5 separate regions of the Homo sapiens genome follow, and all the other regions are linked to region 1. The links come from fine-mapping of genetic effects on gene expression. A gene starts in region 1. Each other region holds a variant in brackets. All regions are shown on one strand. Distances are between the middles of the regions. Region 1 holds the start of COQ7 (coenzyme Q7, hydroxylase). Region 2 has its middle 7.0 kb from the start of ITPRIPL2. Region 3 overlaps SMG1 (SMG1 nonsense mediated mRNA decay associated PI3K related kinase). Region 4 overlaps TMC7 (transmembrane channel like 7). Region 5 overlaps TMC7 (transmembrane channel like 7).

Region 1 (5,000 bases):
TAATCCTGGCAAAATTCTTTTTAAGATAGAAAGTACAGAGGGAGGGAAAAAGAAGGAAAAAGAAGGAAAGAACTTTGGTATTCTAATTTCTTTTTCACTTAATATGTGTTTTCCTGAAGAATCTAGTGTTTTCTCCTGTTATTAAAAGCTCTTTACAAACATTTCAATGGGCTACATAACATCATACAGTTGGATTTTTTTTTTTTTTTTTGAGCCAGAGTCTAGGTCTATCACCCACTCTGGAGTGCAGTGGTGTGATCATGGCTCAGTGCAGCCTCAACCTCCTGGGCTCAAGTGATCCTTTTAGCCTCACAAGTAGGTGGGATCAGAGGCACACACCACCATGCCTGACTAATTTTTAAAATTTTTTGTAGAGATGGAATCTCACTGTGTTGCCCAGGCTGGTCTTGAACTCCTGGGCTCAAGTGATCCTCTCGCCTCAGTCTCCCAAAGTGTTGGGATTACAGGCGTGAGCCACTGCACTCGGACATGATGTTTTGATATTCAATTGTTGCTTAACATTTTGTTTCCAAATTTTCCCAGTAATAAATAATGGGCACATCTATAAATCTTTGTCAACATTTTTTCTCCTTAGAAACAGAGACCTAGGCCAGGCGTGGCGGCTCACGCCTATAATCCCAGCACTTTGGGAGGACAAGGTGGGAGGATCACTTGAGGTCAGGAATTTGAGACCAGCCTGGCCAACACAGCGAAACCCAGTCTCAGCTGGGCGTGGTGGTGTGTGTACCTGTAATCCCATCTACTTGGGAGGCTGAGGCAGGAGAATCGCTTGAACCCGGGAGGCAGAGGTTCCAGTGAGCCAAGGTCTCCCCACTGCAATCCAGCCTGTGCGACAGAGTGAAACTCCATTTAAAAAGAACAAAAACAAAAAACAAAACAAAAAGGAAACAGAGACCTAGAAGTGGTATTACAGCAAAGGTTTTGAACATTTTAAGGCTTTTGAGCGCCAGATTCAGACACTCAGTAGTTTTACATGAGAGTGCTACAACATCCTCACTAAGTAGTATTTGGGTTCATCATAATTTTAAATTATTTTGGTGTGTCAATTTGAACACTAGAGTGATATAAAAACTAAAAACTTGAATTCAATAATTTTACAATTGTATTCCATCTTAAAATATTTTATGGTAAACTTGGATAAAGTATATAAATAATCCAAGGGTGTAAAGTAGAAAGTGAAAGCTCCCTTCTCCCAGTTCCAGCCCCCTGATGTTGCCAATATTAAACGTTGTATATCCTTGCAGACACGCATCTTTGATTTTTGCCCTCATGTACATTACTCATTTAAAAATTATTTCGTTGAGTAGATTCCTAAAAGTAAGACTGCTGTATTATATGATCTTTTTAAAGTATGTTGCTAAATTTCCCCTCCCTTCTCAAAAAATTCCAATTTGCACAAATATACATGCATACATGCACACAGTACATTAAGGTGGATACCAAGGATAAAACATGTTCTCTGTTTCTGAAAATAGAGAAAAGACCGGGAAGAAGTTTAAAGTTGGCTTTCAGCCCACCAATAGAGATAACACTATATAACACCATTAACCATGTGGTGCATGTAATTTAGATATACATATAATTTTATTTATTTATTTATTTTTCAGACAGGGCCCAGGCTAGAGTGCAGTGGCAGAATCACGGCTGACTGCAGCCTCGAGCTACCGGGCTCAAGCTATCCCCCCACCTCAGCCTCCCGAGTAGCTGGGACTACAGGTGTGCTCCACCAGACCCGGCTAATTTTTAAAATTATTTGTAGAGGCGGGGTCTCGCTATGTTGCCCAGGCTTACTATTTTAAAGTAGATGTAGGATACAAATAAAAAAAAAAATCTCCTTCCACGTAGGTAAAGCAGGAAATACCGTGCCTTGTTAATAAGTAATTCCCTCATGATCCTTTTCCCCAGGAACTTGGGTGAGAAATCATAACCTTGTCCTGATCTTTCTAAACAGCAATTTAGCATTTTCATCTCCCTGGCAACCCAAGGCGCCTTGGCCTTGGTCTTCCGAGTGATTGACAGTGACCCCACCCAATAAAATCTTTTTATTTGTCGTATCTAACCAATCTAACCCCTAGCGCAGAGCTAGGGGGCGTTCCCACCGGTGCGCGGGCGAGCTGAGCCTTCCTTACGTCTGCTGTGCGTCATCAGTCCGAGCCAAGGGCACTATTGGCCAGTTCCGTTCAACGAAGTGGTTGCTTTTTTTAGTTCCGGCAATGAGTTGCGCCGGGGCGGCGGCGGCTCCCCGCCTTTGGCGGCTGCGCCCGGGGGCCCGGCGGTCCCTCTCAGGTAAAAGGAGGCGCGCAGTCACAGTCCTGCGCCGGTCTAGCGAGCTAGGGAATTTTCGCTTGAGGTTTGGGTCGAAGAGGTCACGGGGGAGAGGTTCGTAACGTCACAGGCCTGCGACGGAGCGCGACTGCGTGACTTCGGCCTCCGGGGCGCTGGCGGGCGGGGCGGGGTCTGTAGTTAGCGGCGAGAGTGACAGGAGGACAGGGGTTGTTTCGGCAGTGACGCCTGGGGAGTGACGCAATTGCACCCCTGTGCAGTGATGTCACGGCAGGTGCGGCCAGCGTTCCGAGTCGAGGACAGTTGGCGACACTGAAAATTCAGCGTCTCCGGGAGTCTCTCTCTTTGTAGTCTTTGCCCAGGGCCTTGCCAGGCAAAGGGTAGCCCGACGACCAGCAGCCTCCGCTACTTCTGGGCGCTCGCTAGAAATACAGATTCTCGGGCCCCACCCCGACCTACTTGGTCGGTATCTGTGATCTGTGAACAGGACCTTTAGGTGATTTGCATGCACTGTAAACTGTGAAAGCCATCAGTGTAGTGGAAGGAGCATCGAATTTAGAGTAGAGAGACATGGTTTTGGACCCTGGTTCCTGCTTTCCTTGTTTCATCTGTGCTGCCTTAGAAAATTGTCATGAGCCCGGGCGCGGTGGCTCCGGCCTATAATCTCAGCACTTTGGGAGGCCGAGGCTGGAGGATCCCCTGAGGTCAGGAGTTTGAGACCAGCCTGGCCAACATGGTGAAACCCCGCCTCTACTAAAAATACAAAAATTTGCCAGGCGTGATGGCAGGTGCCTGTAATCCCAGCTACTCAGGAGGCTGAGACAGGAGAATCGCTTGAACCCGGGAGGCAGAGATTGCTTTGAGGCGAGATTGCACCACTGCACTGCAACCTGGGCGTCAGAGCGAGACTTTGTCTCCCCCGCGCAAAAAAAAAAAAAAAAAAGAAATTTCATGAAGTCGTTTTCTCAACGTTAAATTACCGTGTACCACTTTCGGGATTTTTGCCTAATGGCAGTACTGCTTGAACTTTTGATTACTAGATGTGTTTTTTTGTATAGCTATGTCCCATTTAAAAATTAAATTAATTTCCTTGAAACAAAATCCTTATGGTGAATGGGAAGCCAGTGCCACTTGCCACAAATGGGTGAGTAATCATTAAAAAAAAACAAACAAATTAAAAAGTTATGAAATTGTATTAAATACTGTCTTTCTGTTACAAAGGGGAAATTAGCAAGTGTTGGGAAAGTGTTAAGGCTATACCAGCTGTAAATGGAGTTATCTTCCTTAATGAAAGAGATTGCAAGAGATTTTGAAAGAGTACCCCTTACTACATGGGGTTATTTGCTGCATATCCATAAGCCACTTAATATTTTGTAGGTACCACACTGGCATGTTTCACACTTTGGGAAAATATGGACATAAAGTGATGCATTTGAGAGCTAGCACCGAGCCTCAATTTTACTTTAAAGTATATGGTAATGCAGGCAAAACTCCGAGGGTTGTTGAATGTGAATTTTAATGCTGCTCTGTTCAGCCAGTGAGCATAACAGAATAAGACTCATTTCTGTTTATAAAGTTACTTTGCTTCTTATATCTTATTTTATCCTCATAACTCAGTAAGAAAAGTTTATTATTGTATGTTTTCCCTTAAAAAGGAAAGAGCCTGATTATTGCCTTTTTTTTTTTTTTTTTTTGAGGCAGAGTCTTGCTTTGTCGCCCAGGCTGGAGTGCAGTGGCGCGATCTCAGCTCACTGCAACCTCCGCCTCCTGGGTTCAAGTGATTCTCCTGCCTCAGACTCCCGAGTAGCTGAGGCTGCATGCATGCACCACCACGCCTGGCTAATTTTTGAATTTTTGGTAGAGACGGGGTTTCGCCATGATGACCAGGCTGGTCTCGAACTCCTGACCTCAAGTGATTCTCCCTCCTTGGCTTCCCAAAGTGCTGGGATTACAGGCGTGAGTCGCCGCACCCAGCCAATTTTATATGTAAGAAATGTCGATCCTGATTTTCCCAAGGCTAGTGTTAGAGATGGGACACATGTTTTATGCTTCTTTTTTTCTTTTTTTGAGACAGAGTCTCACTCTGTCACCGAGGCTGGAGTGTAATGGTATGATCTTAGCTCACTGCAGCCTTTGCCTACTGGGTTCAAGTGATTGTTCTGCCTCAGCCTCCTGAGTAGCTGGGACTACAGGCACGTGCCACGATGCCTGGCTAATTTTTATATTTTTGGTAGAGATGGGTTTTCACCATTTTGGCCAGGCTGGTCTTGAACTCCTGGTCTCAAGCAGTCCACCTGCCTCAGCTTCCCAAAGTGCTGGGATTACAGGCATGAGCCACCACACCCGGCCTATGCAGTCTCTTTAGTCAGATATGCTCAGTGAGATGGAGAGGATCATGGCGAGGAGTAGACCAAAGCTGGGTCACTATGCTTCAGAACTTAGGTCCACGCTTCTTTGTTAAAAGTGTGACATTTACAACCCCATCTGGTAGAAGATTTCAAGTTCAGAGCCACCCCAAATTTCACCAACCCACCTCACTACCTTGTGTCCAAAGCACTCAAGCCTTTGTCATGAAAGAACCACATATGTATCTAAAATGAATTTTTTCCACATATTCGCTGGCTGTTGAAGTTAGCCTAAGTGAAAAGAAGTTTGCATAAAAGACATGGTAGTCACGGCTAAGAGCCCTAAAACAT
Region 2 (5,172 bases), 39 kb after region 1:
CTGCAGCCGCAGCCTCCCAGGGCTCAAGCAATCCTCCCACCTCAGCCACTGAGTAGCTGGGACTACAAGTGTACACCACCTCGCCTGGCTAATTTTTTTAAAATAATTTTTTGTAGAGACAGGGTCTCACTATGTTGTCCAGGCTAGCCTCAAATTCCTGGATTCAAGTGATCTTCCCGCCTCTGTCTCCCAAAGTGTTGGGATTCCAGGTGTGAACCATCGTACCTGGCCTGCCTTGTTTCTTAACAAGCGCAGCTCTAGCAAGGGATCATTCTATTTTCACAGCTGGAAAGAACTGGCTGCTGCCACTCCTGCCACAGACTAAGGACCTCTTTGTGTGGTGCTGACCGATAAGGAGAGACCACCCACATGTACAGGCAGGGACTTTCAGGGACGCTGGCTTCTGCATCAGCCGATGACAAGGCCCGGAGTGGGGGCAGTAAATATCCTGTGGGTATCCTTTGACCAACAAGAGACAGGAGATGGGAAGAATCATCAGCTCAATTGTTTGCCCTTTTTTCTCCCCAACTGTTTAGAGATTAAGAGGCTCTGTGCAGCCTCTTTGAAGGGGATGGAGGAACCAGCTGTGTTTGCTGCAAAGCTTCCTTGGGCTTGAACCACTCCCCATAAAACACTCATAGGCAAGCCATACCCTTAGGTTCTGTTTTCTGAGGATCTGGGCTGAAGAGCCTCCCCACCCCATGCTGCCACCATCCAACCAGTCTGGGTGGCAAGGAAGAGACACATTCGGACGATCTCAGACTCCAGCAGGGATTGTTAGAAGGATCACAGGGAACCCAGACAGCACTACTTACTCAAGCCAGAAAAAAGAGCTGTAAGGTCATTCAGGCCCCACGGCAGCTTTTGTGCCCCCAAATCAACTCCGATAGCCCAACATTCTTGGACTCAGCTGTTTGGTCACCTTGCTTCTTCCTACTCTCCCCTGACCCACCGAGGTTGCCATTGCCCCCTGGCCTTTGCCTACTCTATAGCTTCTGCTGATTTACGGCTTCTGCTTAATTCTGAATTCTCCTTCCTCAGGGCTTCTGTGTCCCATTCATTCAGACTCCCCAAGAGAGATCGGCATGGGTTGCTTGGTTGCCATTCAGTACTGGGTGGCATTGTTGGCAAAGTTGTGCATTGGGCTCCCTTGTTACTGGTGGTCCTGGTCCAGTCCCTTGAGAGTGTTTAGAAACATCTGCATCAACTTGACATTGCTGTGACATTTACAAGAGTGTGACTGACAGGCTCATCTTTCTAGGCACAGGTCAGTGTGGATAATCTCTAAATAAAGATAGGCCTGGTCAAATATTGAACATGCAAGGTGATTAACAATTTTTTTTTGTGTAGAGATGGGATCTTGCTCTTTTGCCCAGACTGATCTCGAATTCCTGGTCTCAAGCAATACTCCCACCTTGGCCTCCCAAAGTCCTGAGATTACAGGCGCCAGCCACCTCACCTGGCCAAAAGCAGATTTTTAATAAAATAATCGTCAAAAGTCTAAGTTGTCTGTGAATTGCACATGACATGAGCTATGTGATAGTCTTGCAGAGTAGAACCAACAGGAAATTTTAAATAACAAACCAGCAACAGGTCATTTATCACAGAGAGTCTGAGAATCACTGGGAAGGCTGCAGTAAAGGAATCTGAGCGGAACTTCCAGAAATAACTCTTAAGCCACAGAGCAGAAACTGGGCCACCAAGGAAGCCGCCGCCTCTGTCCCCACCAGGAAGCTGCCTGCAGAACCAGGGCCCCTGCTCCAGCTGCGGAGTTTCAGAACCACCCCACCTCTGCTGCCAGCCACACTAGCAAAGCGGGTGTCTCGGGTGGCTCCTGTCTTCATGCCAGGAAATGTGGGAATGTGTTTTGCTTCCCAGCTCCTGCTGTAGAAGCTCCCTAGAGGAAAGCTGAAATGAATGGCTAGTAAGTGCAACCACGGTGTCCATTCAAAAATTCTACACTTCCGTAACAATAGGACTGATGTCCTGTTCCCCCAAGCGGTCACATGCTCCTTGACCACAAGCATATGCACATTTTGTTTGTATTACCTGGAATGGTCTCCTTGAATTTCTGCTGGTCAAAATCCTATTCATTCATTCATTCATTCATTCATTCAACAAATCTCTGTAAAGTACCAGGCATGGCGTAGGCTACTCGGGATACCAAAATGAATATGGCAAAGTCCCTGACTTCAAGAGCCTCATCATCTGGTTAGGGAAATATACATGAACATAAACTACACTGCTCTTTTCCTTTCTGTCCTATTAAGCCCTTTACAATGTAAAAGAGTGAAGTACAGGGACGAAGAGTCCAGCTCTGTAGTCAGACTTGCCAGCTGTGTGACTTTTTGGAGACAGGTCTCTCCCTCTCACCCAGGCTGAAGTGCAGTGGTGCAATCATCAGGCTCACTGCAGCCTCAACCTCCCAGGCCCAAGTGATCCTCCTGCCTCAGCCTCCTGATCAGCTGGGACAATAGGCATACACCACCACACCCAGCTAATTTTTTTTTTTTTATGACAGGGTCTCACTATGTTGCTCAGGCTGGAGTGTGATTTTTATTTTTATTTATTTATTTTGAGATGGAGTCTTGCTCTGTCATCCAGGCTAAAGTGCAGTGGCACGATCTTGGCTCACTGCAACCTCCACCTCCTGGGTTCAAGTGATTCTCACGCCTCAGCCTCCTGAGTAGCTGGGATTACAGGCATGTGCCACCATGCCCAGCTAATTTTTATATCTTTAGTAGAGACAGGGTTTCACCATGTTGGCCAGGCTGTTCTCAAACTCATGACCCCAAGTGATCCACCCACCTTGGCCTCCCAAAGTGCTGGGATTACAGGCATGAGCCATTGCGCCCGGCCCCTGCAGTGTTTTCTAATAAGTTACTTAACCTCTCTCAGCCTCACTTTTCTTTTTTCTTTTCTTTGAGACGGAGTCTC[G/A]CACTGTCACCCGGGCTGGTGTGAGCGATCCCGGCCTGCTGCAACCTCTGCCTCCTGGGTTCAAGTGATTCTCCTACCTCAGCCTCCCGAGCAGCTAGGATTACAGGTGTGCACCACCACGCCCAGCTAATTTTTTGTATTTTTAGTAGAGACAGGGTTTCACTATGTTGGCCAGGCTGGTCCTCACTTTTCTCATATGTGAATGGCAATAATAACAGCACCTGCCTCATTGGGCTTGTTCTGAGCATTTCAAGAGATACTGCTGAGGAATCGCCACATCTAGGAGGCGTGTGATACAGGCATCAAATGGGCTATCGTTTCCTGTCCTTCAAAACCTGGTTACATGTTACCTGTCCATGAGCTCCCCCTGCTCCCACTGTGGGAAATGAATCACTTCTCCCTCTTTTCCTCTCATCAGTGCTCACATTCATCCTCTGTGAGACACACCTCCAAGACATCAGAAACTCTGGGAGGAGTGTCTGTATATATACTTGCTAAGCTATTGAAAACAAAAGCCATAGGAGTGACCTTTGTCAAATATTAAATGCTAAAGGAGTTTTGGTTTTTGGTTCCTTTTTTTTTTGGTTTGTTTTCAGACCGGGTCTTGCTCTGTGGCCCAGGCTGGAATGCAATGACGCAATCATGACTCACTGCAGCCTCAACCTCCTGGGCTCAAGTGAACCTCCCACCTCAGCCTCATGGGTAGGTGGTACTACAGGTGTGTGTCACACTCTGTTGCCCAGGTTGGAGTGCAGTGGCACGATTTCGGCTCATTGCAACCTCCGCCCCCCAGGTTCAAGCAATTCTCGTGCCTCAGCCTCCTGAGTAGCTGGGATTACAGGCGTGTGACACCATGCCCAGCTAATTTTTTGTATTTTTAGTAGAGACGGGGTTTCGCCATGTTGCCCAGGCTAGTCACGAATTCCTGAGCTCAGACAATCTGCCTGCCTTGGCTTCCCAAAGTGCTAGGATTACAGGCATGAGCCACTGTGCCCGGCCAACGGTGACAATTTTCTTAATCCACCTACACACTGTGTATGTACCATTTTCGTCTGTAAGCTCAAAGCCCTGTGTTTTCCTTCACATTTCCCTTGGCCTAGCACATGTTAAGAACCCACAAATATGAGCAGTAAATTAATGAATGAATACATTTGTATTTGCTCTGACACATATAGTAGATTTGCCAAGTGCAAAGTTCTGAGGCCTGTACCTTGAGCCCTTTAGAGGAAATGACCTATGGAAACAGATTACAGGCAGGAAAAATAGCAATAGTAATACGTCATTTACTCGGTGTAGCGGGGATGAATTATGGTCCTCCCAAATATATGTTTTCATCCTAACCTCTAGAACCTGTGAATGTGACCTTCTTTGAAAAAAAGCGTCTTTGTAGACATGATTTAAGAATCTTTAAATTAAGGATCCTTAAATTACAGATCTCCAGTTGAGATCAATGGGATAACCCCAGTGTCTTCTAAATCCAATGACAGGTGTCCTTATAAGAAACAGAAGGCCAGGCACGGTGGCTCACACTTGTAATCCTAGCTCTTTGGGAGGCCGAGACAGGAGGATTGCTTGAGTCCAGGAGTTCAAGAGCAGCCTGGGCAACACAGTGAGTGAGACCCCATCTCTACAAAAAATAAAAAATTAGCTGGGTGTGGTGGTGCACACCGTAGTCACAGCTATTCAAGGAGGCTAAGGCAGGAGGATCATTTGAGCCCAGGAGGTGAGGTCAAGGATGTGGAGAGCCATGATCACCCACTGTACTCCAGCCCAGCCTGGGTGACAGAATGAGAACCTGTTTCAAAAAAAGAAAAGAAAAGAAACAGAAAAGGAGAAGGCCATGCAAGATGTAGGCAGAGATGGGAGTCAGATAGCCACAAGCCAAGGGGCGCCTGGAGCCACCGGAAGCTGTAAGAGGCAAGGAGGGGTTCTCCCCTGGGGCCTCAAAAGGGAGCACAGCCCTGCAGACACCCTTTCAGATTCCTGCTTTTGAGAACTCTGAAAGAATACACTTCTGTTGCTTAAACCACCTGGTTTGTGGTATTTTGTGACAGTAGCCTCCAGGTACATTGAGCGTGTTTGTATGACCCTCGAGCTGAGATTAGTTTTTATATTTTTTTAGAGTTAGGGTCTCGTTCTGTTGTCCAGGCTGGAATGCAGTGGCATGATCATAGTTCACAGCTCACAGCAGCCTCGACATCTTAGACTCAAATGATCCTCCTGTCTTAGCTTCCT
Region 3 (5,000 bases), 210 kb before region 1:
AGATGGGGTTTTGCCATGTTGGCCAGGCTGGTCTCGAACTCCTGACCTCAAGCGATCCACCCACCTCAGCCTCCCAAAGTGCTGGGATTACAGGTGTGAGCCACCGTGCCAGGCCAACTCACCTATTTTTAACAGGACTCTAAGGAAATGCCTTATTTTCTCAAAAGTATATTCTTCTTAGAAAAATATAACTCACTTTCATCTTAAAATGCAGAAGTTTTTATTTACAACAACAATTGGTAAGCCCCATTCAGTATTTTATCAAATATATATGATCAATTTTCTCAAAATCAATGATTTGGAGTAGCAATCTTGCCCCAAGCACCATGTTTTCCTTGCCTGAATCCCCGCCGGCCGACACACAGCCTGTCCAAGAATACCATATATTCTCTCTTTCTCTTCCTCAGTTATAGTGTCTGGAAGTAGATTCTGAACTTCAGATTTTTCTCTAGGCAGCAGACGAACACCTTCTCCCTGACTATAAAAATAAACAAGTCATCAGTATTTCAGCTACCCAAACTTTACCATATCAGCAGACATTTAAATATCTATTTATGCAATGCATAAATAAACTACACATTTAAACATACCTGGCATTGTCAACCACCTTTCTGCCCCACCTATAAGCCCAGCTGGCCAACGCTGCCCAAGATTTGGCTACTTCAGGTGCCTGTACTGAAGACAGGTGATACAACTGTCCCAAAATGAAGTCAGGTTCTCCAACTCCAATATGCACTGCCAAAATGGACAAAAAAATAATTATAATAAAAGAACTCAACAATGTTACATTCATAAATTCCTAACGACATTTCCATTAGCATTTTAGGTTTTTATCTGCAAGCAATCAAAAGTTCCAAAATATTACTGTACATAACTTGAGAAGGCACAAATATGAATTATGTTCTCTAAAAGGTTGGTATGTTGAAATGAATTCATTAGCTTCCCAAGTAAGATTATATTATCTCCTGTGGAAGACATCAATATCTTTCATGACACTGAACATTGTAAACAGTCAGGTGTCAGCTGTGCTGTAGAATGTCTTGCATTATGAATCGGACTGGCTATTTCCTCATGATCAGATTCACTTTAATCATTCTGGCAAAAATAATAAATAGGTGATGAGTATACTGTTTCATTCATACAGACTCATGAGGCAAACATCTTTATTCCCTTGTTAAAGGTGAAGACACTGCCTGCTATAGTGCATCTGACAAGATGAAGATTTATAATGACCACAAGACATATCCTTTATGAATATCAAGACTCTATCAAAATTATTAACACCAATGTAAGTAATTAAACTCTTAGGCTTCAGAACAACAAAATGAAGGTATATTCTCATGTTTCAGCAAAGAAAACCATCTCCCAAATTTTCTCTCAAATTTTAAAAACAGGGGAATTATGCCTTCCACAACAGGCACTCAAACATGGACAGAATCAACTACCCTATTTGTAAGGTATCTTTGTGTTACTAGCACTAGCACCAGAATGGGAAACTTGAATCTTTATATAGTTTCTGTGTTCCACCAATCAATAGGAACACAGGTAACTATTTTAAATCTTTGTTGCTCCTTCTATTGTGAGGTGAAATTTTTTGATATGAGGGGCAGGATCTTATTGCCAGCAAAAACATCTAAGTCCATAAAAGCAAATACCTGGGGGCAGAGTTCAGTGACTCCCAAAATGGCATTCGATCCTAAATATGTTTTAGTTATTTCCCAACAATAAAATAAACTCAACTTCCACAGATATACTTTTTATGGAAAATTATAGCCAGCATAACATTATAAACTTTAAAACAGAAAAAAATATAGCTTCTAAAATTAATATTCTAAAGCTAATAAAGCAACTCTACCTGTAGATTCACTCTCGATCCGAGGATACTCTTCTTCCATCGTATTAACAGATGGCAGTTCTATTAGAGTGAGTATGTTTTTAGACAAAGTAGAAAGACCTGTGAAGTTCTGTTGGTGCTGAGCTCTGTAAACCTGTTTCAGCTGTCCTGAAATCTCTTTCCATTCTGCCTGGATCCATTTAGCCAGTGTCAGAATTGATTTAGCAACTGCATATTCAGCTTTCACAGACTTGCAGAAAGATATGGCACAAGAACTCAACATTTCCATTGCATGTGTTGACTGGCCTACAGAAAACCACAAAGTCAGAACTTAGAACCTTTAAAAGCAAATGATGGAGGGAGGCACTTGGATTAGGAAACAAATATCAACATGGTGATGACACCACCATGTTGATGGTTTCAAACTCCTATGCTCAAGCATAGGAGGCTCCTACTGTCTTAGCCTCCCAAAGTGCTGAGATTGCAGGCATGAGCCAC[T/C]ATGCCTAGCCAAAATACTAAACTTTTTTTTTTTTTTTTTTTTTTGAGGCAGGGTTTCACTCTGTCACCTAGGCTGGAGTGCAGTAGCACAATCAGGGCTCACTGTAGCCTCAACTTCCCAGGCTCAAGCAATTCTCCTGCCTCAGCCCCTCAAGCAGCCGGAACTACAGGCATGTTCCACCACACCCCCCTAATTTCTTTGAATTTCAGTATAGCTGAGATTTCACTCTGTTGCCCAGGCTGGTGTCAAACTCCTAAGCTCAAACAATCCTCCCATCTTGGCCTCCCAAAGTGCTCAGATTGTAAGCATAAGCACCTGGCCCAAAATAATAAAGTTAAAAAAACATGTAAATTCAGTGACCAATGATCTCCGGAAATACTTCTTACTGTAATACATTGCAACAAAATTCTTTTGAAAGCACAGAATTATAAAGGTAAGTCAGTAATAAGCAACTTATTATTCAGGATGCAAATGTTCTGCAACAGCTGGAAATGATCAACTTTGCTATTACTACCTTATACCATACATACACAGTAACATTCATATACATGATTTTTATTATACTCATGTATTAACCATAATTAATTTTACTAACCTGCTGTATAAAGCAATTTGGTTTTTTCAATATCAAGTTCGGGCCCCCATTTTTCATCCACTTGACCTTGGGTTGATAGTTTTTTAAAATGTTGGACTAAATCCTGTGCAGTGGTGGTCTTTCCCAGCTGAACTTCACTGCACTGTGCCAGCAGTCTTGTTGCAAGGGACACATTCCCTCGTTTTCTAGCAAATTTTGCTGCTGTTAGACCTAATTCCATGAGATGGCTTCTAATTGGGACTGTTTGTTCTGAAGAGAGGAAAACGTTTTATTAGTTCCTAATTTGTCTAAACCAGACTGCATGGAAACATGGCCAAAAAATTATTCCCCAACTATCCCTCTTCTGCACCACCTCCTGAAACAAAGATAACTCATCCTCAAATCCCTAGCAGCTAGCACAGTGCTTGAGATACAATGAACAGGTTTTGCTAAATTAAATGTATACAATGAAGTAAAGTCAAGTCATTCATTTCAAGAAATTTCTTTTTAGTTTCTGAATCTTTGGCAAAAAGCCTGGGCCAACGGGTAGGGAAAGCAAGGAAGCAGGGAAGGCTAAACCATCCCCCCGCACTTCTTCTGTAAGTACTCTCTGCCCTTCCACCATTCTCCTGGTTTTCTTCCTATCTTGCTGAAGAATCCTCAGTCTCTTTCTCTTCCATCACTCATCCATTAAACACCAGTGCTCCTTGGACTCAGTCCTAGGCTCTCTACTTTTCCCACTGCATACTCTCCCTGGACATCATCATCTTTTCCTGTGTCTTCAATTACCACAGAAATGCTGACAACTGCTGAATCTTCACCCAGACCTGATATCTGAATCCCACCTGCCAACTGGTCATCTACACTCTATTTATTTCAAGAGTGCTTCCTCTAATGTCAGTCATGCCAAATGGAGCTCATTTTCCACCACCCTCCAAATCTTTTACTCCCTTTTTCCATTTTCCCCTTCTCAAGGAAGGGCACAGGATGAGCCGGCTGCCTGTGAAAGTACTTGGCCACCATCACAGACTTTACTTTCAACCCTCATGGCCCATTTGCTTTTTTCTTTCCCTACTGCCACCCTAGTTACCCTCTTTAGCAGAGACTTCAGCATAACTTAGGTCCCTTTGACCCCATTCTTATACTCTTCTAATCCATTTTCCAACTTGCAATTGAAGTGACATTACACAAGGGTAAATCTGAACATTTCACTTCCCTGCTTAAAAGCCTCTGATGACTTCTCACTGACATTCTGACAAATCCCAAACTCCTGAATTCAGCTTGTTACTGATGCCTTCCAGCATTCAATTCCAATCTCAATCTCATCCAGCGCTCCACCTCTTCCTACTCTCTCTTAGGTGAACTGAGTCAACTAAGAATCATTATTTTCTCTGGCCTGCACACGTTTTTTCTAACCAAGTCAGCCTGCCTTCTTCCTCATCTTTATCTTAACTCTCAGCTTAAATGTTACTTCCCCACAAGTCTTTTTCTGATTCCTAGGATTAAATCAGGTGCCCTCGTTATTTGCTGTTCCTTCTTATTTTTTGAGACCGGGTGTCACTCTGTCACCCAGGCTGGAGTGCAGTGGCATGATCATAGCTCGCTGCAGCCTTCATTTCCCAGGCTCATGCTATCCGCCCACCTCAGCCTCCTAAGCAGCTGGGACTATAGGCACATGCCACCACACCCAGGTGATTTTTTTTTTTTTTTTTTTTTTTTTGAAATAGAGTCTCACTCTGTTGCCCAGGCTGGAGTGCAGTGGCGTGATCTTGGCTCAATGCAAGATCCGCCTCCCTGGTTCATGCCATTCTCCTGCCTCAGCCTCCCAAGTAGCTGGGACTACAGGCACCCGCCCCCACGCCCAGCTAATTTTTTTGTATTTTTAGTAGAGATGGGGTTTCACCGTGTTATCCAGGATGGTCTCAATCTCCTGACCTCGTGATCCACCCCCCGTCAGCATCTCAAAGTGCTGGGACTACAGGCGTGAGCCACCGCGCCCAGCCCACACCCGGGTGATTTTTTAAATTCTTCTAGCAGAGACAGGGTCTTGCTATGTTGGGTCACCGTGTTTGATGTCAGTTTTCCCTGCCAGA
Region 4 (5,172 bases), 63 kb before region 1:
TAGAGACAGGGTTTCACCATGTTGGTCAGTCTGGTCTTGAACTCCTGACCTCAGGTAATCCACCCGCCTTGGCCTCCCAAAGTGCTGGGATTACAGGCGTGAGCCACAGTGCCCAGCCCGGATGGAGGGCCTTCTGTGAGCAAGACACCGCTTTTAAGCCTCAGAGAGACTTTGTCCTTAACCTGGAAGAATAGTATATGGCAGAAAAATTGGCTATGCCTGGCCCTGCTCCCTCATGTCTCCTGGAATTACCCAGTCATCCTCCTACCTAAGTAATAATCTCCTAATTGCTGAAATCTGGCCCCAGTGACCAAGAAGTTCTAGGCATTCTTAGAGGCACCCCAATATCTGAAATATGCTACCTGCTCCTGTGCAGATGGTCAACAGCAGCCCACGCTGACCACAGGACTACAGTGGCCATCCCAACAGCAAGGCTCTTGGCTGGACCAATTCAGTAGAATGTCTGACAATAACTGTAATGAGATGATCTTATTCTTTAAGGATGAGAAGGACATCAAGGCTCTAAGTGGTGAAATGACCTGTGGTAAAACCAGGAGTCTGTCTTGACACTCAAGTCTTGGGCAAGTCACCATGCCTGGGCCTCAGTTTCCCTGTTGGAAAGCCAGAGCAGGCCAAGGGTGGTGGCTTATGCCTGTAATCCCAGCCCTTTGGGAGGCTAAGGCGGGAGGATCACTTGAGCCCAGGAGTTTGAGACCAGCCTAGGCAACAAAGCAAGACCCCGTCTCTACTAAAAACTGAAAAAGAAAAAAATTATCCAGGTGTAGTGGTGTGCATCTGTAGTCCCAGCTATTTGGGAGGCTGAGGTGGGAGGATCGCTTGAGCCCAGGAATTCAGGTTACACTCCAGCCTGGGCAATAGAGCAAGACCCTATCTCAAAAAAAATAAAAAATACCAGGGCAACGGCCGCCCCTACTGGGAAGTGAGGAGCCCCTCTGCCCGGCCAGCCGCCCCGTCCGGGAGGGAGGTGGGGGGGGTCAGCCCCCCTGCCCGGCCAGCCGCCCCGTCCGGGAGGTGAGGGGCGCCTCTGCCCGGCCGCCCCTACTGGGAAGTGAGGAGCCCCTCTGCCCGGCCACCACCCCGTCTGGGAGGTGTGCCCAACAGCTCATTGAGAACGGGCCAGGATGACAATGGCGGCTTTGTGGAATAGAAAGGCGGGAAAGGTGGGGAAAAGATTGAGAAATCGGATGGTTGCTGTGTCTGTGTAGAAAGTAGAAGACATGGGAGACTTTTCATTTTGTTCTGCACTAAGAAAAATTCCTCTGCCTTGGGATCCTGTTGATCTGTGACCTTACCCCCAACCCTGTGCTCTCTGAAACATGTGCTGTGTCCACTCAGGGTTAAATGGATTAAGGGCGGTGCAAGATGTGCTTTGTTAAACAGATGCTTGAAGGCAGCATGCTCGTTAAGAGTCATCACCAATCCCTAATCTCAAGTAATCAGGGACACAAACACTGCGGAAGGCCGCAGGGTCCTCTGCCTAGGAAAACCAGAGACCTTTGTTCACTTGTTTATCTGCTGACCTTCCCTCCACTATTGTCCCATGACCCTGCCAAATCCCCCTCTGTGAGAAACACCCAAGAATTATCAATAAAAAAATAAATTTAAAAAAAAAAAAAAAAATACCAGGGCAAGTGAAGCCCTCTGTGCTTACCTCTGCAGGTTGGCGTGAGAAATGAGGTGACGTCATGCTGGGAAAAGTGTGTGTTATATGCAAACGAGGGGGTGGATCCTAGTTATAAAAATAATGATGCCTGTGTTCAAAGACATGGTCGTGACATTTTTTGTTTGAAGTTGAGGAACTTCCCTGGAGTGTCTAAAGAGGAAAAATCAGAACAGTTCTTCCTAGGAGGGGGTAGGTGGTGTATGAAAAACAGGATAATTACCTAGTTGATTTGTATGGAATTTTATTTTTATTTTTATTTATTTATTTGTATATATTTTTTGGGATGGAGTCTTGCTCTGTTGCCCAGGTTGGAGTGCAGTGGCGTGATCTCGGCTCACTGCAACCTCCGCCTCCTGGCTTCAAGCAATTCTCCTGCCTCAGCCTCCTGAGTAGCTGGGATTACAGGCACTTGCCACCATGCCTGGCTGATTTTTCTAGTTTTAATAGAGACGGGGTTTCACCATGTTGGCCAGGCTGGTCTTGAACTCATGACCTCAAGTGATCCACCTGCCTCAGCCTCCCAAAGTGCTGGGATTACAGGCGTGAGCCACCGTGCCCAGCTTATACGGTATTTTAACATTTACAAACACTTTTAAATCCATGGCCCCCTGAATTTTTTCATGGTGAAGACTACAGCTTTGGGGTCTGATAAACCTGTGATGGGTTCCTAGTTCCAACACTTACTGTGTGAGCAAGCAACACTTACTAATTGTCTGAGCCTCAGTTATTAATCTGTAACATGGAGATAATTCTTTTGTTTGTCTTTTGGGTTTTTTTTTTCTTGGAATTGGAGTCTTGTTATGTTGACCAAGCTGGTCTTGAATTCCTGGGCTCAAGCAATCCTCCTGCTTTAGCCTCCCAAAGTAGCTGAGACCACACCAGCACAATGGGGATAATTCTCTCTAAAGAGTAGTTCGGAGTATTAAGTGTGACGATGCATGTTAAATACTTTATTTTATTTATTTATTTATTTATTTATTTATTTATTTATTTATTTATTTTCTGAGACGGAGTCTCGCTCTGTCGCCCAGGCTGGAGTGCAATGGCAAAATCTTGGCTCACCACAAGCTCTGCCTCCTGGGTTCACGCCATTCTTCTGCTTCAGCCTCCC[A/G]AGTTAGCTGGGACTACAGGCACCCGCCACCATGCCCGGCTATTTTTTTGTATTTTTAGTAGAGATGGGGTTTCACCATGTTAGCAGGATGGTCTTGATCTCCTGACCTCGTGATCCACTCGCCTCGGCCTCCCAAAGTGCTGGGATTACAGGCGTGAGCCACCACGCCTGGCCCGCATGTTAAATACTTTAAATGGCCTGGTACAAGGTAGGCAAGTACTCAATAAATCTTAGCCAGTGTTGTTCATGTTGTTTGCAACTCCTTCCTCACCATCATGCTGATGAGGCCCATGGTATTAGATCCTCCATTCCCGAGATGAGAAAAATGTGACTCTGAGGCAGCTGTGGTCTCTCCTGGGGTGGCTTGGCTGGTGGGTGACAGGCCAGTATTTTAAACCAACCCAGGCTCCAGCCTGGGGCCCCTGACCCCACAGCTGTTGAATATTCAGTAGGTCCATGCTGTTCTATATTCAAAGACCTTTGTTTGTGGCTAATAATAGCTCTTTGTTTCTGCTTGCAGGAGGGTAGCCTCCATGCAGGGCTTAGACCCTTTTCCTTTTCAGGGACCACACCCACCCTACCCTCATATTGGCTCTAGGGAGCCACTGCCACTAATGGAAGTGTGTCATATCCTCAGGGTGTGCCAGGCAGGGAGGTAGAAGGGTGGGTGAGGCTCGTAGACTTGCACATGGTGATTGGCAGGGCCCCAGCCACGTGTCCATGTGTCATCTACAGTGGGACAGCTGCTCCATTGTGTCTGAACTTGCCTATCCGAGAAAGGCAAAGATTACAGTGTCAGAGCCAGGCCTTGACCGGTCCCCACCTGGCCCTGCCCCTGCCCATCCTCATCCGGTTGGTGCCTTTATGGAGCTCTGTGTGTGCCGAGCACTGCCTGGGACCTTCTACCCATGTGATCCCCTTTAATGTTCATAAACAGGCTGTGTAGCAAGTCCTGACCCCAGCCTTGCCCTTGCAGCCTCCAGGGTGACCTTTTTTTTTTTTTTTGGACGGAGTTTCGCTCTTGTTGCCCAGGCTGGAGTGCAATGGCACGATCTCGGCTCACTGCAACCTCCGCCTCCTGGGTTCAAGCGATCCTAAATAGCTGGGATTACAGGCACGCGCTAGCGTGCCCAGCTAATTTTGTATTTTTAGTAGAGACAGCGTTTCTCCATGTTGGTCAGGCTGGTCTTGGACTCCCAACCTCAGGTGATCCCCTTGCCTTGGCCTCCCAAAGTGCTGGAATTACAGGCGTGAGCCACCGTGCCCGGCCCAGGGTGACCTTTTAAAATGCAGTCAAAGCACAACATCCCAAGGTCCTGCCACAGTCTACAAAGCCTGACTTGGTTCGACCCCAGCCACCCCTCTGACTTTAACGTTTCCATTCTCCCTGTCCTAAATACCTATTGTTGCTCAACACACTGCTCCAAATGTGCTGGCTTAAGCCATGTTGTTATTTCTGCTGATTCTGTGCATCAGGGACGATGCAGGGCACGGGGGAGCCCGCTTGCACTGCTGCCTGGGATGTCTGCTGGCGCTGGAGCACCCAAGATGGCCTCATCATGGCGATGCCTGGTGAGGATGCCCCAGGGGTTTTTTTTGTTTTCTTTTGTTTTGCTTTTTTGAGACAAAGTCTTGCTCTGTCGCTTAGGCTGGAGTGTAGTGGTCCAATTTCGGCTCACTGCAACCTCTGCCTCCCAGGTTCAAGCTATTCTTCTACCTCAGCCTCCTGAGTAGCTGGGATTATAGGCGCGTGCCACCACGTGCAGCTAGTTTTTTTTTTTTTGTATTTTTAGTAGAGATGGGATTTCACCATGTTGGCCAGGCTGGTCTTGAACTCCCCACCTCAGGTGATCCGCCTGCCTCGGCCTCCCAAAATGCTGGGATTACAGGTGTGAGCCACCGTGCCTGGCTGTCCCAGGGGTTTGAAGACACGAGCCTGGGGCCTTGGTTCTTGCAGTCACCCAGGTTGTTGGTTCTTTTTGTAGGCTTAGGGGCTCTTCCTCTCCACCTCATTGTCCTAGGCAGTTGGACTTCCTACCAGGTAACCCTGGCCCGAGAACACAGAAGTGGCTACTGCAAGGCCCTCTTATGACTTTGGGCTGGAAATGGCAGAGCATTACTTCCATTGAGTCCTTTGGTTAAAGCAAGCACAGGTCCTGTGCAGATTCAAGGAGGGGACCACGCAGAGGGCCAGGCCAGTGTGGCTCATTGGAGGCCACCAACGAAACCGCCCACCAGGTTCTTGCTCATTAACTCTTCCTCCAACCTGTCACACACTCTTCTGCCGCTGGGCCTTTCCACTTATGGGTTCCCTCTGCCTGGGGTGCTTTTCCCCAAATATCCAGGGGTCTCACCCCTTCCCTTCATTCAGCCTTAG
Region 5 (5,172 bases), 24 kb before region 1:
GGTTTTCCATGTTTGATTTGTTCAAAGCTGAATCCAAACAAGGCCCACATGCTGTTTGGTAGTCATGTGTCCTAAATCTCTTTTATTATTTTCAGAGTTTCCCCTCCCCTTTTGTTAGGCCTTTGATTTGTGGAAGAAACTGGATCATTTTCCTGTAGAATAGCTCCTATTCTGGATTTCGTCCATTGTTTCTTCCTGGTGTGTTTAATTTGTTTTTCTATGCCCATAGTTGCTATAAATGACTGTGGAGATTCAGAGTTTTTGGTAGATTCTGTGTCAGTTTTTAGTTAAGGAAACCTCATCAGGGGTGCCGTGTCCTTCCTGTTGTATCCCAGCAGAGGCACAGAAGGTGGTGTTAGTAATGAGAACAGTGAGCAGAGGGCGTGGGTTCGCTCTTTCCCCCATTCTTTTCTTTCCATTTTATTTATTTATTTTTTTTGAGACTGGGTCCAGGCTGGAGTGCAGTGGCATGATCGTAGGTCACTGCAGCCTTGACCACCTGGGCCCAAGTGACCCTCCTGCCTCAGTCTCTCGAGTAGCTGGGACTACAGGTGCACACCACCATGCCAAGCCAATTTTTAAATTTTTTGTAGAGACAGGATCTCCTCACGTTGCCCAGGCTGTTCTCAAACTCCTGGGCTCAAGCAATTCTCCCACCTCAGCCTCCCAAAGTGTTGGGATTACAGGCTTATGAGCCACCATGCCCAGTCTCCCTTATTCTTTAAATTATTCCTTCTTTTTTTTTTTTTTCTTTTTTTTGAGACGGAGTCTCACTTTGTCGCCCAGGCTGGAATGCAGTGGCTCGATCTTGGCTCACTGCAAGCTCCGCCTCCCGGGTTCACGCCATTCTTCTGCCTCAGCCTCCCGAGTAGTTGGGACTACAGATGCCCGGCACCACGCCCGGCTAATTTTTTGTATTTTTTAGTAGAGATGGGCTTTCACCATGTTAGCCAAATGTTTCTATTTAATTTATTTTTTTATTTTTATTTTTATTTTTCGAGACGGAGTCTCGCTCTGTCACCCAGGCTAGAGTGCAGTGGCGCGATCTCGGCTCACTGCAAGCTCCGCCTCCCGGGTTCACGCCATTCTCCTGCCTCAGCCTCCCAAGTAGCCGGGACTACAGGCCCCCGCCACCATGCCCGGCTAATTTTTTGTACTTTTAGTAGAGATGGGGTTTTACTGTGTTAGCCAGGATGGTCTCGATCTCCTGACCTCGTGATCCGCCCACCTCGGCCTCCCAAAGTGCTGGGATTACAGGCGTGAGCCACCGTGCCCGGCTACTTAATTTATTTTTGTATTACAAACCAAACAATGGAAAATTGTCTTAAAAAAAAAAACAAGAACAAAAACTCACCGTCTCCGCCCACCTCCCTTGAATCCAGTGTGTTTTTGTCTGCACAGTTCCTTATGTTTGTGCCAACACTCACGTTTTTTCTTCCAAAAATAGGATCATATTTATGTGATATCTCTGCAGCATACTTTTTTTCACTTTTCAGCATGCCAGACATCCCGCGACCCTGATACAGAAAAGATTCCATTGGTTCTTTTCAGGACTGTGTCATGTCTTGTAGTGTCACTATGTCATCACAGAATTAGGAGGTCCCAGCTTTCTGATCTTTTAAAAAAATTGTAGTAACATATATGTAACATAGAAGTTGCCATTTTAACCATTGTCAGAGTACAATTTGGTGGCATTTAAGTACAGCCCCAATGTTATGCAGTCATCACCAGCATCCATCTCCAGAACCTTTTCAACAGCCCCAACAGAAATTCTGTACCCATTTAGGCATTTGCTTATTATTTATTTATTTATTTATTTCTGAGATGGAGTTTCGCTCTTGTTGTCTAGGCTGGAGTGCAATGGCGTGATCTTATCTCACCGCAACCTTCGCCTCCCAGGTTCAAGAGATTCTCCCACCTCAGCCTCCTGAGTAGCTGAGATTGCAGGGATGTGTGCCACCATGCCCAGCTAATTTTGTATTTGTAGTGGAGACGGGGTTTCTCCATGTTGGTCAGGCTGGTTTCGAACTTCTGACCTCAGATGATCTGCCTGCCTCTACCTCCCAAAGTGCTGGGATTACAGGCGTGAGCCACCGCGCCCGGCCTGCTTTTGTTTTCTTTGAGATGGAGTCTTGCTCTGTCGCCCAGGCTGGAGTGTAGTGGTGTGATCTCGGCTCACTGCAACCTCTGTGCCCCAGATTCAAGCGATTCTCCTGCCACAGCCTCTGAACTAGCTGGGACTACAGGCGTGTGCCACCACACCCAGCTAATTTTTGTATTTTTGGTAGAGACAGTTTCACC[A/G]TGTTGACTAGGCCAGTCTTGAATTCCTGACCTCAGGTGATCCCTCTGCCTCGGCCTCCCAAAATGCTGGGATTACAGGCATGAGCCACCACGCCCGACATTGGTTTTTTTGTTTGTTTGTTTGTTTTTTCTCACTCTGTCCCTGAGGCTAGAGTACAGTGGCTGAATCTCCGCTCACTGCAGCCTTGATCTCCTGGGCTCAAACAATCCTCTGGGCTCAAGCAATCCTCTTGACTCAGCCTCCTGTGTAGCTGGGTCACCACCACACCTTGCTCATTTTTATTTTTATTTTTTTGTAGAGACGGCCAGGGGGTGGTGGTCTTACTTTACTGCCCAGGTTGTTCTCAAACTTAAGGGCTCACGTGATCCTCTGGTCTCTACCTCCCAAAGTGCTGGGATTACAGGCGTGAGCCACTATGCCTGGCTGGGGTTTTAAGAAAGGCAGCTTTGGGCTGGGCACCGTGGCTCACACCTATAATCCCAGCACTTTGGGAGCCCAAGACAGGCGGATTGCTTGGGGCCAGGAGTTCGAGACCACCTGGGCAATATGGTGAAACCTCAGATCTACTAAAAATAGAAAAAAAATTAGCTGGGTATGGTGGCAGACACCTGTAATCCCCGCTACTTGGGAGGCTGAGGCAGGAGAACTGAGATCACACCACTGCTCTCCAGCCTGGGCAACAGAGCAAACACTCCATCTCAAAAAAAAAAAAAAAAAAAAAAAAAGGCAGCTTCTACATTCCCTAGCCCCAGTTCCAAGGGACCAGCCACCCTGAGGGCCTCATCTTCCCATCCTCTCTCCTTCTCTCCCCGAAGGTGTGTCTTTATGCGGCTGGCCACCATATGTGTCCTGGTGTTCACGCTGGGCTCCAAGATCACATCCTGTGATGATGACACATGTGACCTTTGCGGCTACAACCAGAAACTCTACCCGGTGAGTTGCGGGGCGGGGGCGTTCGGCTGGGTGGGTCCTTCTGGAATACAGTGTCATGGTCAAGAGAACAGCGGTTGAAGCCATGGGTTTGAACTGCATTTGCTTCGCTTTCTTGTTCTAGTGATGAGACAGAGTCTGGCCCCATGGAGTCTAACCCCAGGCACTTCTGAGGGCTTGGAAACCAAGGTCTGTGCTGAGGCTCAGAGTTTGCATCAGCTGATGCCCTCACTGGAGCCACAGGATCTGGAGTTGGAAAGGGAATTAGAAGGTGTCTTGGGAGCCTGGTTTTCTCTGCCTCAGCTAGGGTCTTTCAGTTTCCCTCACTCTCTTTGATTTCAGTGCTGGGAGACCCAAGTTGGGCAGGAAATGTACAAGCTGATGATCTTCGACTTCATCATCATCTTGGCTGTGACACTCTTCGTGGATTTTCCTAGAAAGTAAGTGCGAGGGGTGCCCATATTATCCCCCCCACCACACACATGCACACACACACATACACACACACACAACTGGAGGGTCCCATTGCAGCTGCATTCCAGAAGCTGCTGGATGACTCTACAGCCCTGGAAATCTGACAACTGGTAACTTTCTTTTTTTTTTTTTTTTTTTTTTTGAGGCAGGGTCTTGCTCTGTCACCCAGGCTGGAGTGCAGTGGCGCGATCTTGGCTCACTGCAACCTCCGCCTCCCAGGTTCAAGCGATTCTCCTGCCTCAGCCTCCCGAGTAGCTGGGACTACAGGTGTGTGCCACCATGCCTGGCTAATTTTTTGTATTTTTAGTAGAGATGGGGTTTCACCATGTTAGCCAGGATGGTCTGGATATCCTGACCTCGTGATCCACCTGCCTCGGGCTTCCAAAGTGCTGGGATTATAGGCATGAGCCACCGCGCCCGGCCAAGTTTTTAATTTTTTGTAGAGAGGGGCTCTTGCTATGTTGCCCAGGCTGGTCTCGAACTGGCCTCAAACGATCCTCCTGCCTCAGCCTTCCAAAGTGCTGGGATTACAGGTTTGAACCATTGTGTCTGTTCACAACTGGAAACTTTCAAGCAGCTCTAGGCTGTTGACCTCAGCATTCATTAGTTGCCCATCTAAAGGCAGCATGAAGAGCAGAAATGGGGTCGCTTTCCATGAGGTTTTGCTGGGGATGACCTTCTGCCATCAGCACAAAAGGTGCAGACCTTCCAGGCTGCAGTGGACACCTGTCTCCCGATCTGGGTTCAAACTCCCTCCCTGCTCCTTGCTAGTCATGTGACCTTGGGCAAGTTATTTAAGCTCTGTGCCTATTTTCTCATCTGTAAAATGGGGATAGTAGTAGTACCCACCCAGTAACTTTGTGGTGAGGAGTAACTGGGATAATTAATGCAGATAAAAGCACTGAGAACACTCCACAGTATAGAACTCAACAAAACATCAGCTATCACCAGCATGATTATCATAAACTGTGTTGTCATTTCTGTTATCATTCTCTGTTCACTTAACCACTGTTTACCCACATATGCAGATAATCTAGGCAGAGGCCAGAGGTCCAGTGAGCCCTTAAAAATAAATATGGAAGCCTGGGCACAGTGGCTCACACCCATAATCCTAGCACTGGGGAGGCCAAGGTAGGAGGATCACTTGAGGCCAGGAGGTTGAGACCAGCCTGGGCAAAATAGCGAGACCCTGTCCCTACAAAACACAAAAATTAGCCAATTAGCCAAGCATGCACATGTAGTCTCAGCCACTTGGGAGGCTGAGGCAGGAGGATCACTTGAGCCTTGGAGGTCGAGGGTACAGTGAGCTATGATTGCACCACTACACTCCATACTGAGTAACAGAGTGAGACCTTGTCTCAAAAAAAAAAAAAAAAGTCAAGGATTGTATGAATTTCAGTGCTGAACTATAGATCTGAGACTTGGAACCTGATCTTAATGATTCCAGAGTTCATTATATTCTGCAT

Evidence for each region. PIP is the estimated chance that this variant, and not a neighbour inherited with it, causes the effect.
Region 2: its variant is fine-mapped to the expression of COQ7 in atrial appendage (GTEx, PIP 0.97).
Region 3: its variant is fine-mapped to the expression of COQ7 in whole blood (TOPMed, PIP 0.96).
Region 4: its variant is fine-mapped to the expression of COQ7 in atrial appendage (GTEx, PIP above 0.99).
Region 5: its variant is fine-mapped to the expression of COQ7 in aorta (GTEx, PIP above 0.99). The same link has a PIP of 0.9 or more in esophagus muscle.

What each region holds. Positions count from the first base shown.
Region 1 is chr16:19,065,431-19,070,430 of GRCh38, forward strand. COQ7 (coenzyme Q7, hydroxylase) reads left to right here and starts at 2,184. Exons shown (of 6, transcript NM_016138.5): 1 at 2,184-2,307. The coding sequence starts at 2,235. COQ7-DT (COQ7 divergent transcript) reads right to left here and starts at 2,261. Exons shown (of 3, transcript NR_119381.1): 1 at 2,151-2,261. RefSeq lists a silencer at 2,208-2,367 and an enhancer at 2,398-2,547.
Region 2 is chr16:19,104,382-19,109,553 of GRCh38, forward strand. No RefSeq gene overlaps it. Among named protein-coding and RNA genes, the nearest start is that of ITPRIPL2, 7.0 kb to the right of the region's middle. RefSeq lists enhancers at 1,448-2,306, 3,384-3,483, 4,632-4,721. The variant G/A (reference allele first, on the strand shown) is at 2,938.
Region 3 is chr16:18,851,728-18,856,727 of GRCh38, forward strand. It overlaps SMG1 (SMG1 nonsense mediated mRNA decay associated PI3K related kinase), which reads right to left. Exons shown (of 63, transcript NM_015092.5): 30 at 2,929-3,177; 31 at 1,856-2,140; 32 at 591-735; 33 at 340-478. Among named protein-coding and RNA genes, the nearest start is that of ARL6IP1, 53 kb to the left of the region's middle. The variant T/C (reference allele first, on the strand shown) is at 2,333.
Region 4 is chr16:19,002,419-19,007,590 of GRCh38, forward strand. The region is part of intron 1 of TMC7 (transmembrane channel like 7); the gene reads left to right. Among named protein-coding and RNA genes, the nearest start is that of TMC7, 21 kb to the left of the region's middle. The variant A/G (reference allele first, on the strand shown) is at 2,796.
Region 5 is chr16:19,041,767-19,046,938 of GRCh38, forward strand. It overlaps TMC7 (transmembrane channel like 7), which reads left to right. Exons shown (of 16, transcript NM_024847.4): 10 at 3,118-3,235; 11 at 3,575-3,672. Among named protein-coding and RNA genes, the nearest start is that of COQ7, 23 kb to the right of the region's middle. The variant A/G (reference allele first, on the strand shown) is at 2,302.